Linked DNA regions of Homo sapiens: region 2 is linked to region 1. Evidence: fine-mapped expression QTL. Tissue or cell type: lung. Region 1 holds a variant in brackets; the other region holds the start of a gene. All regions are shown on one strand. Distances are from middle to middle.

What was found. PIP is the estimated chance that this variant, and not a neighbour inherited with it, causes the effect.
Region 2: it holds the start of MACC1, and the variant in region 1 is fine-mapped to the expression of MACC1 in lung (TOPMed, PIP above 0.99).

What each region holds. Positions count from the first base shown.
Region 1 is chr7:20,302,364-20,307,580 of GRCh38, forward strand. LOC101927769 (a long non-coding RNA gene) reads left to right here. Exons shown (of 5, transcript NR_110117.1): 4 at 3,429-3,660. Among named protein-coding and RNA genes, the nearest start is that of ITGB8, 26 kb to the right of the region's middle. The variant G/A (reference allele first, on the strand shown) is at 2,140.
Region 2 is chr7:20,214,671-20,219,795 of GRCh38, forward strand. It overlaps MACC1 (MET transcriptional regulator MACC1), which reads right to left and starts at 2,714. Exons shown (of 7, transcript NM_182762.4): 1 at 2,629-2,714. It overlaps GIRGL (glutamine insufficiency regulator of glutaminase lncRNA), which reads left to right and starts at 2,907. Exons shown (of 4, transcript NR_134569.1): 1 at 2,907-2,952; 2 at 3,586-3,693; 3 at 4,913-5,086. RefSeq lists an enhancer at 2,539-3,738.

The DNA.
Region 1 (5,217 bases):
TTAAAGACGGAGTTTCGCTCTTTCACCCAGGCTGGAGTGAAGTGGCGCGATCTGGGCTCACTGCAACCTCGGATCCCCGGGTTCAAGTGATTCTCCTGCCTCACCCTCCCGTGTAGCTGGGATTACAGGCGCCTGCCACTACGCCCGGCTAGTTTTTTGTACTTTTAGTGGAGACGGGGTTTCACCATGTTGGTCAGGCTGGTCTCAAACTCCTGACCTCAGGTGATCCACCTGCCTTGGCCTCCCGAAGTGCTAGGATTACAGGCGTGAGCCACCGCGCCCAGCCCACAGCATACATTTTTATATGATAAGGTACATCATCTCAGAAGACAGACAGAATAGCTTCAGATATGAACCTCAGAAAGAAGTTCAAAAGGCAAAGAGATCTGCTTCAAAAAGAAAAATCAAAAGTTGAAGGTCTTGCTCCAAAAGAGGGATTTAATTTAAATTACTCCAAAAAGAATGACTGACTGATATCCAAAGAAGAAAAAAGTCTTTGCATTCCTGACATCTGATATCTTAATGCATGATACATAAAAAGCAATATATTTCAAGGACACACTAATAATCCCCCATGCAAAGGGGGGATTATCCTCCAGGGGGGGAATGGGGGGAGAGAGAGACACAGAGAGAGAGAGAGAGAAAGTACATACACAAGCCTGCCTGTTACTGGAGGAGCATGGGTGCCAGGATCTTTGACCCAAGGGTCCAAAAGCTTGGCTGAATACAGCATTTCAGTTGTGCCCTGAAGTGAAAGCAGTAAAATAAAGACCAAAGAAAGCTCTACGTTTAAAGTCAAGACCAAATTGCATAAGAACCAAGGATGTAACCTAGGATAAATGCCTAGCAGAACAAAAAAACACCCAGCATTTTGAAGGTGATGGCAGGCTGTGAGAAGGCAGGTTGTAGAAATGATGAGGTTGTTTTATGGCATGCTTTTATTGGCTGTATTAGAGAGAATGTGAGGGTGGGTTGGGTATGTCCTTGAAGTTATAGGACTTTGGTTTAAATAAACTTTGTTGCACATCCAGTAATAATAGGCAAGCCATTTCTTATTCTTGGTTTTTATTTTCTTCTCTTTTGTTCTGGCTTTTTTTCCATAATTCCTGCCTTAGTTAATGACACCACCACTTCCCTCTTGGAGCAACCCAGAAAGAAGGGAGTCATCCTAACTCTTCCTCCTGCCACCACACGTAATCTTTGTCTTTAAACAGACTCAGTGTGTTTCACTTAAGTAAATATATTTGGAAAGAAAACTTCATATTACTTACTAAAAGGGAAAATGACTATTAGTTCTATAAAAGAAATCTATTTTTTTTAAATTAATGAAAATGAAATTACATCATTAAATGTTGGCAGAAATTCATTTACTCTTTGTTAGAAAGGCTGATTGGAAAATACCATTTAAGGCCAGGCACAGTGGCTCACACCTGTAATCCCAGCATTTTGGGAAGCTGAGGTGAGTGGATCACCTGAGGTCAGGAGCTCGAGACCAGCCTGCACAACGTGGCAAAACCCAATCTCTACTAAAAATACAAAAACTTAGCCAGGCGTGGTGGCGGGCGCCTGTAATCCCAGCTGCTTGGGAGGCTGAGGCAGGAGAATCACTTGAACCCGGGGGGCGGAGGTTGCAGTGAGCTGAGATTGCACCACTGCACTCCAGCCTGGGCGACAAGAGTGAAACTCCATCTCAAAAAAAAAAAAATACCATTTAAGACACAGATTAGCATCAACCTAAGCCTTTCTCCGGAAGTTAATTAGAGGGGGTAACAGATAATTAAAAATTTTTTTAAATCATGCGACAATATGATTTCATGCTTCATCCTCATACAACCAAAATGTTATTTGTGAATGAGTCCCACACTTTGGGAAGCACTAGACTATGATATACAATTCAAACTCAGTAGCCTGCTATGATCTTACTCCCAATTCCCTTTTGATCTGATTTCCTGCCACTCCACAAGCCATATTTACAACTCTATTCCTGCTAAAGGACGTATCATTTGGCCCTGGGCATTCTCCATTGTGTCTACTGAGAAACCTATTAGGCCTCTGAAGAGGTTCTTGATGTAAAGTTTTCAGACCCCACCCAGGCACCTTTCTCCTTAGTATGAGCAAAGGTTATCACCTTGACCAAAC[G/A]CTAGCAGGCTCCTCTGAGTTCTCTTGTTGACTAGGACTCAAGCTTACCTTTCTAGGTTGAACAAACACTAAGGCAGTTTCTAACAGCTCAACATTGTTTACTTAGGATGAGCCTATCCCCCACTTAAAGTCCAAGCCTGATAAAGAATTTCCTGTTGTCCCAGCCAACACCTGGAGACCAGCATCCCGCTTTCCAGTCTCTGTGGGAGGGGAGGAGCCGAACTTCAATAAACACCAGTAAACAAAGCTAGATGGGTTTCACGTGGACTAACCTCGTTTCTGGATTTTTGTAATTTTTCATTTTCCTGAAAAACTATGGAATCCCAACTCACCTTCTCCCTGCTCCTTCATTCTCCCATTAAAATACCTAATCACCTCTGTACAGGTCATTGTTGAGCTTAGTTCACGTTGCACTCTTTTCCCTATTGTAATACTATATATTAATTCTTACCATTTTATTTAGTGTCCAGCATTGTTTATCTTTCGCAGCATTTCATAGCTACTTCTAATGCACTATATTCTCATTATTCATTGAACTATCACTCTCACCCGCTATGCTGTGTTCTGTTTTGTACTCCGAGTCCTGAGGTCAGCCCCAGTATTGGGATCACTCCTGTAATCCCAGCACTTTGGGAGGCCGAGGAGGGTGGATCACGAGGTCAGGAGATCGAGACCATCCTGGTGAACACGGTGAAACCCCGTCTCTACTGAAAATACAAAAAAAAGTTAGCCGGGCTTGGTGGCGGGCGCCTGTAGTCCCAGCTACTCGGGAGCCTGAGGCAGGAGAATGGCGTGAACCCGGGAGGCGGAGCTTGCAGTGAGCCGAGATGGCGCCACTGCACTCCAGCCTGGGCGACAGAGCGAGACTCCCTCTCCAAAAAAAAAGAAAGGGGGAACTAAGTTACCTGACTGCTATGAACAGGGTCATGAGGAGAGACTCTAACACATTGCTTTAGTTTTGTTTCAACTTCCAAATCATAAGAGGGACATTACACATTGCATTCAATTCTATAGTGTAAAAATAAAATAAAAATATCAGCTTACTTTCCTTCTTTCTTAGTTTGTCGGTATCATTTTTAATTCTAATGTTTTGTTAAACCTCACACCTTCCTCTTTTGAATTTCTACTTCCTTTTAAAATGGCAATTGCCTTTTTATTTTCATATCTTTTGTCTTATATTAGTAAGAGCATTTCTCTAATTATAACATGGGGAATTTACATGTGGGTTACAGGGGAGACTAGATTTTTACATCAAAATTAATTTTGTTTTATTTGCTCCTAATTTATAGGTGAAAATGTTATTTTACATGGAAACCTATTTTGTTCCATAAAACTAAATAAACCATAACCCAGAAGTGCAATGAGACACACACAGCATGACCACATTATTTCTGAAAGCTGAAGAGTTGCCAGTCTGTTGATCTCAAACTTCATGAACCACACAGTTCAGTTCAAATTGTTTCCCTGAAATTGCTTTGAGCCTCTGCCAAACAGCCACTGAAGGACTCCGAAAAATACAAGGTAAGGAGATGGCACCTAAGAACATTTTTTTAAAAATGTTAACTCTTTTATTGAAGTTTATTTCATTGCTTTTATCAAAGAGACTGATGTCACATCAGACATTTCCTCACCTAAAGGTAACACGCAATAATTGCCATGATAGCATACTATTCAGAACATGGAACCAAATGTGTGGCCTGCATGGGCATTCTTCCTTTGCCAATGAATTGCAAATGCTTCTTTCTATCTACAAGTGTACCAACGTTAAACATTAAATGTGGAGGTCTTATAGTGGGTTGATCTTTAGAAAATCAGGTCTCCTTTCTGTTTTCAGTTGCTGCCAGCATCACCTATCCACAGAATCAATGTTAATGATGTTAATGAAACCAGGCAATATATTAAAAGCTCTAGCCACAATCATTAACTCGAGTCTGGAGTAAACCATGTATTCCAGGGCCCAGTATGCAGAGCGCCTGTGAGGTGTCAGCAAGCTGCAGATATCCAACAATGCTGTTACCTAAACTTCACTTTTGTGTGCCTGTCATTGTAGGCATCCTCCACTCCACACCCTAAGCTAAACCATCACTTGTTGAACAGGGGCCCTGCCTCATGACTAGTATTTGGCCTTGAACTTCACACTCCGTTCCCTAGACACTGGCTGGAGCTTTGCTTCTAACTGAATGGGCCTTATCTTTCTCTTGCCTAGCACTAAAGCCCTAACATTGCCTGCAATTCCTATTGTCATACCCTCCCCACCAGATTCCAACCCCTGATAAATCATTCCTGGCCCAGAAACATAGTTCCACTACCCTGGGATATGATGATTTGGAATGCTGGTGACTCACCCGACTTTTAGACCCTTAGTGCTAACCCCTTTGTTCTTTCTTACTTCTTTTTCCCTGACTTAAGACCCAGCATATGTCAAAGCAGATATGGTATGTAAGATAATGTCAGTGTGCAAAAAGCACTCATCGTATGAAGAAACTTAAGTGTATCTTTTAAGTCAATGCAAATAATCACCACAATTAATATGTTTTGTGGATTTTAACTTTTTTAATGAAAACAAACTTTTGCATTTTCTCTAATGAGAAAAAAGTATAGTTTCCTTTTGTTTTATTTATTTTTTCATCATTTGATAAGGCACAGGATCAAGTTATTCTTTTTGAGATGCCATAATATGCTAGGTATTGGAATGGCCAGCTAGCACTTGCATTGTATAGTTAACATTGTGCTATAAGCGTGGTTCTTTCTAAAAGCTTTCAGTACTGTTTATAGTTTGTGCTACCCAGTTCCCATGGTAACGTGTTTGTTCCCATGGAGAAACAAAGTGAACACCTAACCAGAGCTGAACTTGAAGATATAAAACTTCACTCAGTAGATAATTTGCTCAGAGGCTATTAAGGAGGAGAAGGAGAAAACAGAAGAACAGAAAATATATCTAGGTTTCTAGTTCCAGTTCAAAGTTAAGAAACTACTGATTTACTTTGACCTGCTATGTAACAAATCATTCTTGGTGTCATTATTTGCAACTTTAAGGAGACCTTTTTTTTTTTTTTCTCAAAAGCAATTTTAAAAGTA
Region 2 (5,125 bases), 88 kb before region 1:
TGTTATAAAGGAAGCTTAAACAAGTGTTTGGAGAAGTTTAAGTCATATCAAAAACAACAAAACTTATTTCTGAAGAATTGAAACTAAGTCAAAAAATATAACTTTCTCAATCTGTAATCTTAATGTTATTGTTATTGATTGATCAGTCCATATGTTTCCGAAAATCATTTAATGTGCGAAAGTTTGGAAAACACTGCTGTACGTGAGATACTTTCATGACCTTTTCCTGCCCATCTCAACTCTGCACATTTTTCCAGGCCTGCTTAAAGTTCCACCACCTCCCACAATGTCCTCTTGAAATTCAGGGCACTGTGACTGCCCCTTCCTCTGGCAGCCTGGGTACGCGTCTCTTCTGTGTTTTAGGAAGTCACTCCACTCTGCTTCTGAATGACTCATATACATCTCAAGTTTATTTATTTATTTATTTATTTATTTATTTATTTATTTGGTCTCCAGTAATTATAGTTGAAAGAAAGGTTTTTGAAGGTGTCTTTTTAATCCCCTGATACTGAGCATCACACTTTCTGTGGAGTGACTCTATGAACAGCATGAATGACTAATGAATTAGCACTTACTCTCTTTAACTATTTATGAGGTCATATCTCTGCTAGTAGATAAGGATCCCCTCAAGGGCTGTGCATGAGTTTCTTCTAGCCTCTAAACCCAGCCCAGGGGGAGTATATTGCAGGATTGCTAGAAATCTTTGTCAATTGAATGAATGACACTTCCTAGAGACACTACACCATAGACGGCACTTGACAACAACAAAAAAAGCCACCCTTTTAGAAGTATACAGTGTTCAGTGCCTCTGCAGCTTTCCTCCACCTTTGGAGAATTACAAGTTTCATTCTAATTCTATCCTGGACTTGCTGACATAGGGTTTACATTTATTAATATATGGCATATCACATGTAAAACTCTGCACAGTCATCTGAAATGCTGGTTGTTATCACCTTCACTTATCACCAAATGCCATAAGGGATGTTTAGTCTTAATAGACACCTAGGCATATGTGTGGTCTTTCAAGAAAGAATTCTCTAAAAATTCAACAGACATGTCTTCAAGTTCAAAATTAGTATAATTCCAAAATGTCTTTTGTCCTCCAAATCAGCCAATACATTTTAAGATAAGATGGTGTTTAACAAACTTTGCCTTAATAGTTTTTATTATCTCTAAAACACAAACAGATAAAAATATTCTATTTGTAAATTAGCTACAAGGAAGTTGAGAAAACTGGAATAAATAATATTTTTGCTTTAAGTTTTAAAAATGAGTCATAACTAAAGCTTTTAAGCAAATTGTAACTAATAATTATGACTTCATAATTTCTAGATTCTGTACACTACCCATGAAATCATATTAAAAATCGCTATTATGAATAAAAGATAATCATGTAATTAAGTTCAGGGGGGCATAAAAGAATCACCACTGAGGTTAAGACAACTTTAAGAATATACCTGAAATTCATCATTATCACCCAGTAATTGCTATGTAAAAACCAGACATTAACATAGATAAGTCAATATCAATCCTAAATTAGACCCACTGAATATAGACTTAAGACATTTTTAGGAAATTAGGAAGACCTTTAATAAATGGAAGGCATTGGAATTTTCACTACATGCTTTTTGATCTTAAAAATAAATTTTTTAAAATCTATCTTTATTAATTGTGGTAAAAAACTTAACATACAATTTACCATCCTAACCATTTGTAAGTGTTTACACTTACAAATTTTAAGTTCAATAGTATTAAATATATTTACATTATTGTACAGTCTCCAAGTGTTTTCATCTTGTAAACTGAAACTCTATATCCATTAAACAACTCTCATTTCTCCTTCCCCCAAGCCCCTGGCAACTACCATTCTAAGTATCATTTATGTGAGTTTGACTACTCCAGATACCTCAGGTAAGTTGAATCATCCAGTATTTGTCTTTTTGTTTCTTTGGTGTGTTTTCCAAGCTTAATTGAAACTTAATTAGGATGAAGCCAAGTTACCCTCCATCATGTATCATCTGTCTATTCAGTACAATGCACTGTGCTAATTTAATGACCCCCTTAACTTAATTACATGATTATCTTTTATTCATAATTTAATGCTATTAACCTAATGAGGTAGGTTATGCACACACACTTTACAGATGAGGAAACTGAGACTTTGCGAGGTGAAACATCTTGTCAATGGTCATAAATCTAATAAGCAGTGGGGCTGCTGATTGCAACTTTATCTATCTTCAAAGCACAGTCTTTTTAACATACCTGTATGCTTTTTGAGATATTTAAAGTTTTTAGGGGATTTCAGCCATCTACATATTTTAAGCAACTCATAGAGTGTTTTGTTTTTGCCTTTGATGGTTAATGTGACCTGGGTTCCTCCTTTTTTTTAAAATAAACTACTTTATTCTAAACCATGTCTCAAGGTATTATTCTATTCTATGTCATGAGGTTTATTCTAACACATGTCCCATAAGCCCACAGAATACCAGTTACCTTCCCTTTATTTAAGCAGGGCTTGATTTGTTAAGCAGCTGGTTTGTTACATTTTTCTGGAAATTATACAACTTCCTAGTGTGTAGCACATATCAATAGTGAAAGGAATATTATTTTTAAAAAATCAGCACTTACATTTGTGGAAGTGAGCCCAAGCTTCTTCAGTTCAGACACATGGTTTTAGTGAATAGAAGTCACTCTACCAAACCCGGGTACTCTTCAAACATGCCTTGCTCCGTATGCAGGCAGGCAACTGCACCCCTGCTTCCTGAGCCACCTGGGACTTGAAGTTCTACCACTGTGGCTCCAAAGCTGCCCAACTAGAAACCCCAAAAGGCAAGAGAACTACGATACCCACAATTCAGGCTCCTCACCCGAAACCAGAAGAGGGCGTATGGCTAGAGTTTCACCCTAAGAAGAAAGGGGAAGCAGGTGGAAAAGCAATTAAAAAAAAATCAGGTGAGTATATCTAAGAACCATCTGTAAATATAATCTTATTTCCATGAAAGGAAATAAAAGTGGTTTAATGTTTGCCAGGGAGTAAGAAGGCACCCTCAGTGTTAGCAATAAGTAAAAAATATTTATGCAAGCAAATCCTCATGCAGCTGGAACTTGCCCCACCAGATTCTCTTTCGGTGATTCAGAGCTGAAGGTGCCTCACTGCCCTGTGGAACAGGTGAATAAAGCCTTCCCAGGTGAGTGACAGTGTCTAACTAGTTCCCCCTTTCCCTCTACATCAGCACTGTGATTGTCACTCAAAGACATAGACATATAGACATAATGGAGACCTTTTGGCATTTCATCTTCTAAAATGCTCTGGATTTTTAAGATAACACTTTAAAATGTGCCTTTTAAAATATAAGCAAGAATAAAGTTTTCTTGATATTTTCTTCCATTTTACTTTCCATTTCTGTGTTTTGTGTTTTCCTTCTGTGTATTTTGTTCAAAATTCAAGAAAGAGAAAATTAGGGGAAAGGGGAAAAAAGGTAAAACTTAGTGAAATGAAATGTGCAATAATTGTTTCACATTTTTTTCCAACATCAGCAACAGAGAATGTTTAAAACAAATGTGTTTCTCTATTTGTTCATACAGCATCTCTCTCTAGCCTATTATCTCCTGTTAGACACAGCCCAGAAAATGAATAGAGACAAGTCCTGGCTGGGTCTGGGTTCAGAAACATAATAGAAGGATTCATCTAATGTAAGTAGATGGCAGAATGGTGACAAAGAAAAAGTTTCCTTTCCCTTTTCTGCACTTTCTCTCCTACTGTTCTAACCACCCCTTCCTCCCTGATGCATCCCTGGCTTCATGCTGCCAGATCACCTAATCCACCCAGATTCCCTTTGAAGTTTCCCCTTGACTCATCCCACAATCCAAACTGAGCTGTTCTGTTTCTTTTTGTCACAGGTTCCTCAACTCTCTACTAGAACCTAGCTTTCCTTTATGTCATTATATTATTTCCAAAACAAATGGTTCTTAATTTCCCCAAACCCTACAGAGGGCATTCTGCATGGCATTTCTCCTCCCTGAAACCATTTTTGCTCATCTTGAAATGTTCAGAGATTTCATTTTTTCCAAAGCTCAATGAAAAACACTCTTCAAGATGTCCTTCTCAGTTTGTCTTAATCTGAGTTATTCTCTTCCTCCTAATCAATTTCATAATATTGCATCTGCTCCTCTCATAACACATTGTATATCTCATTTCATTGGTTTACATGGGTGTGTGTGTACCTATGCAGTCTTACATTCCTATTTGAAGGCAAGGCCTCATTGTATCCCTACTTCATTAACTCATTAATGTACAAGTAGATGTTTGTGATAAACAATCAACACATAAAATAACTGAGATGTTAACTCTAAGGTGTGTGTGTGTTAATGCCTAATGCCATCTTTATGTCTCCCGGAAAACATTTACATTTAAAAAGCTACCTAAATGCCATGCATGAGTACTGTTATCAGAATCCCCCTGCAGTCTGGTCTGGTGTGGCTCCCACAGCCTTTATTTGCAGAAAGGCAAAGCATTAAATCTAGCAATTGAACCCTTGACAGTACCCGAAATGAAAGCCCTAGTGGGTCAGCACTCACTGTTTACCAGCTCCAATCCCTGCTGTGCACTTGCCTTTCTAACAGCTCCCCAAGGACTGGGCTCCCTAGAGTCCTCAGTCCCATGGTCCTGGAAACCTGGCCCTACCTCTATCTATGATTTTTGATTATCAGCTCCAGCATTTATGGATCCCTTCTCCTATTATCTAATCTACGGGCTCTAAAGATTAAACTGTGCACTTTGGACTATTTAAATAGTTCTTAACCACTGATCTCCTCCCTCAGGGAAGGGAATTCTTTCCACAGTTGCTAGTTCCTCACACCTCTGCCTCTATGGGATTCTCCTGGTCCCCACATGCTCTGCTGTGTCTTCTAGCTGTCGGCCACTGTGGAGGAAGTGAACCTTCTAGATCCTGCTGACTCATACAATGAGTTTTGTGTGGACCATCAGACAAAAGGGCTGGCTGGTGAAGGTGGCTGTTGTCTGGAAATTCCTCCCAGCTCTCCTCTAATTATGTCATAAGGACTGGAGGCCCCTTAGCCTGCTTGTGTGAGTATCACCAGCTATGTAAAGTTGGGGCCTTAGCTC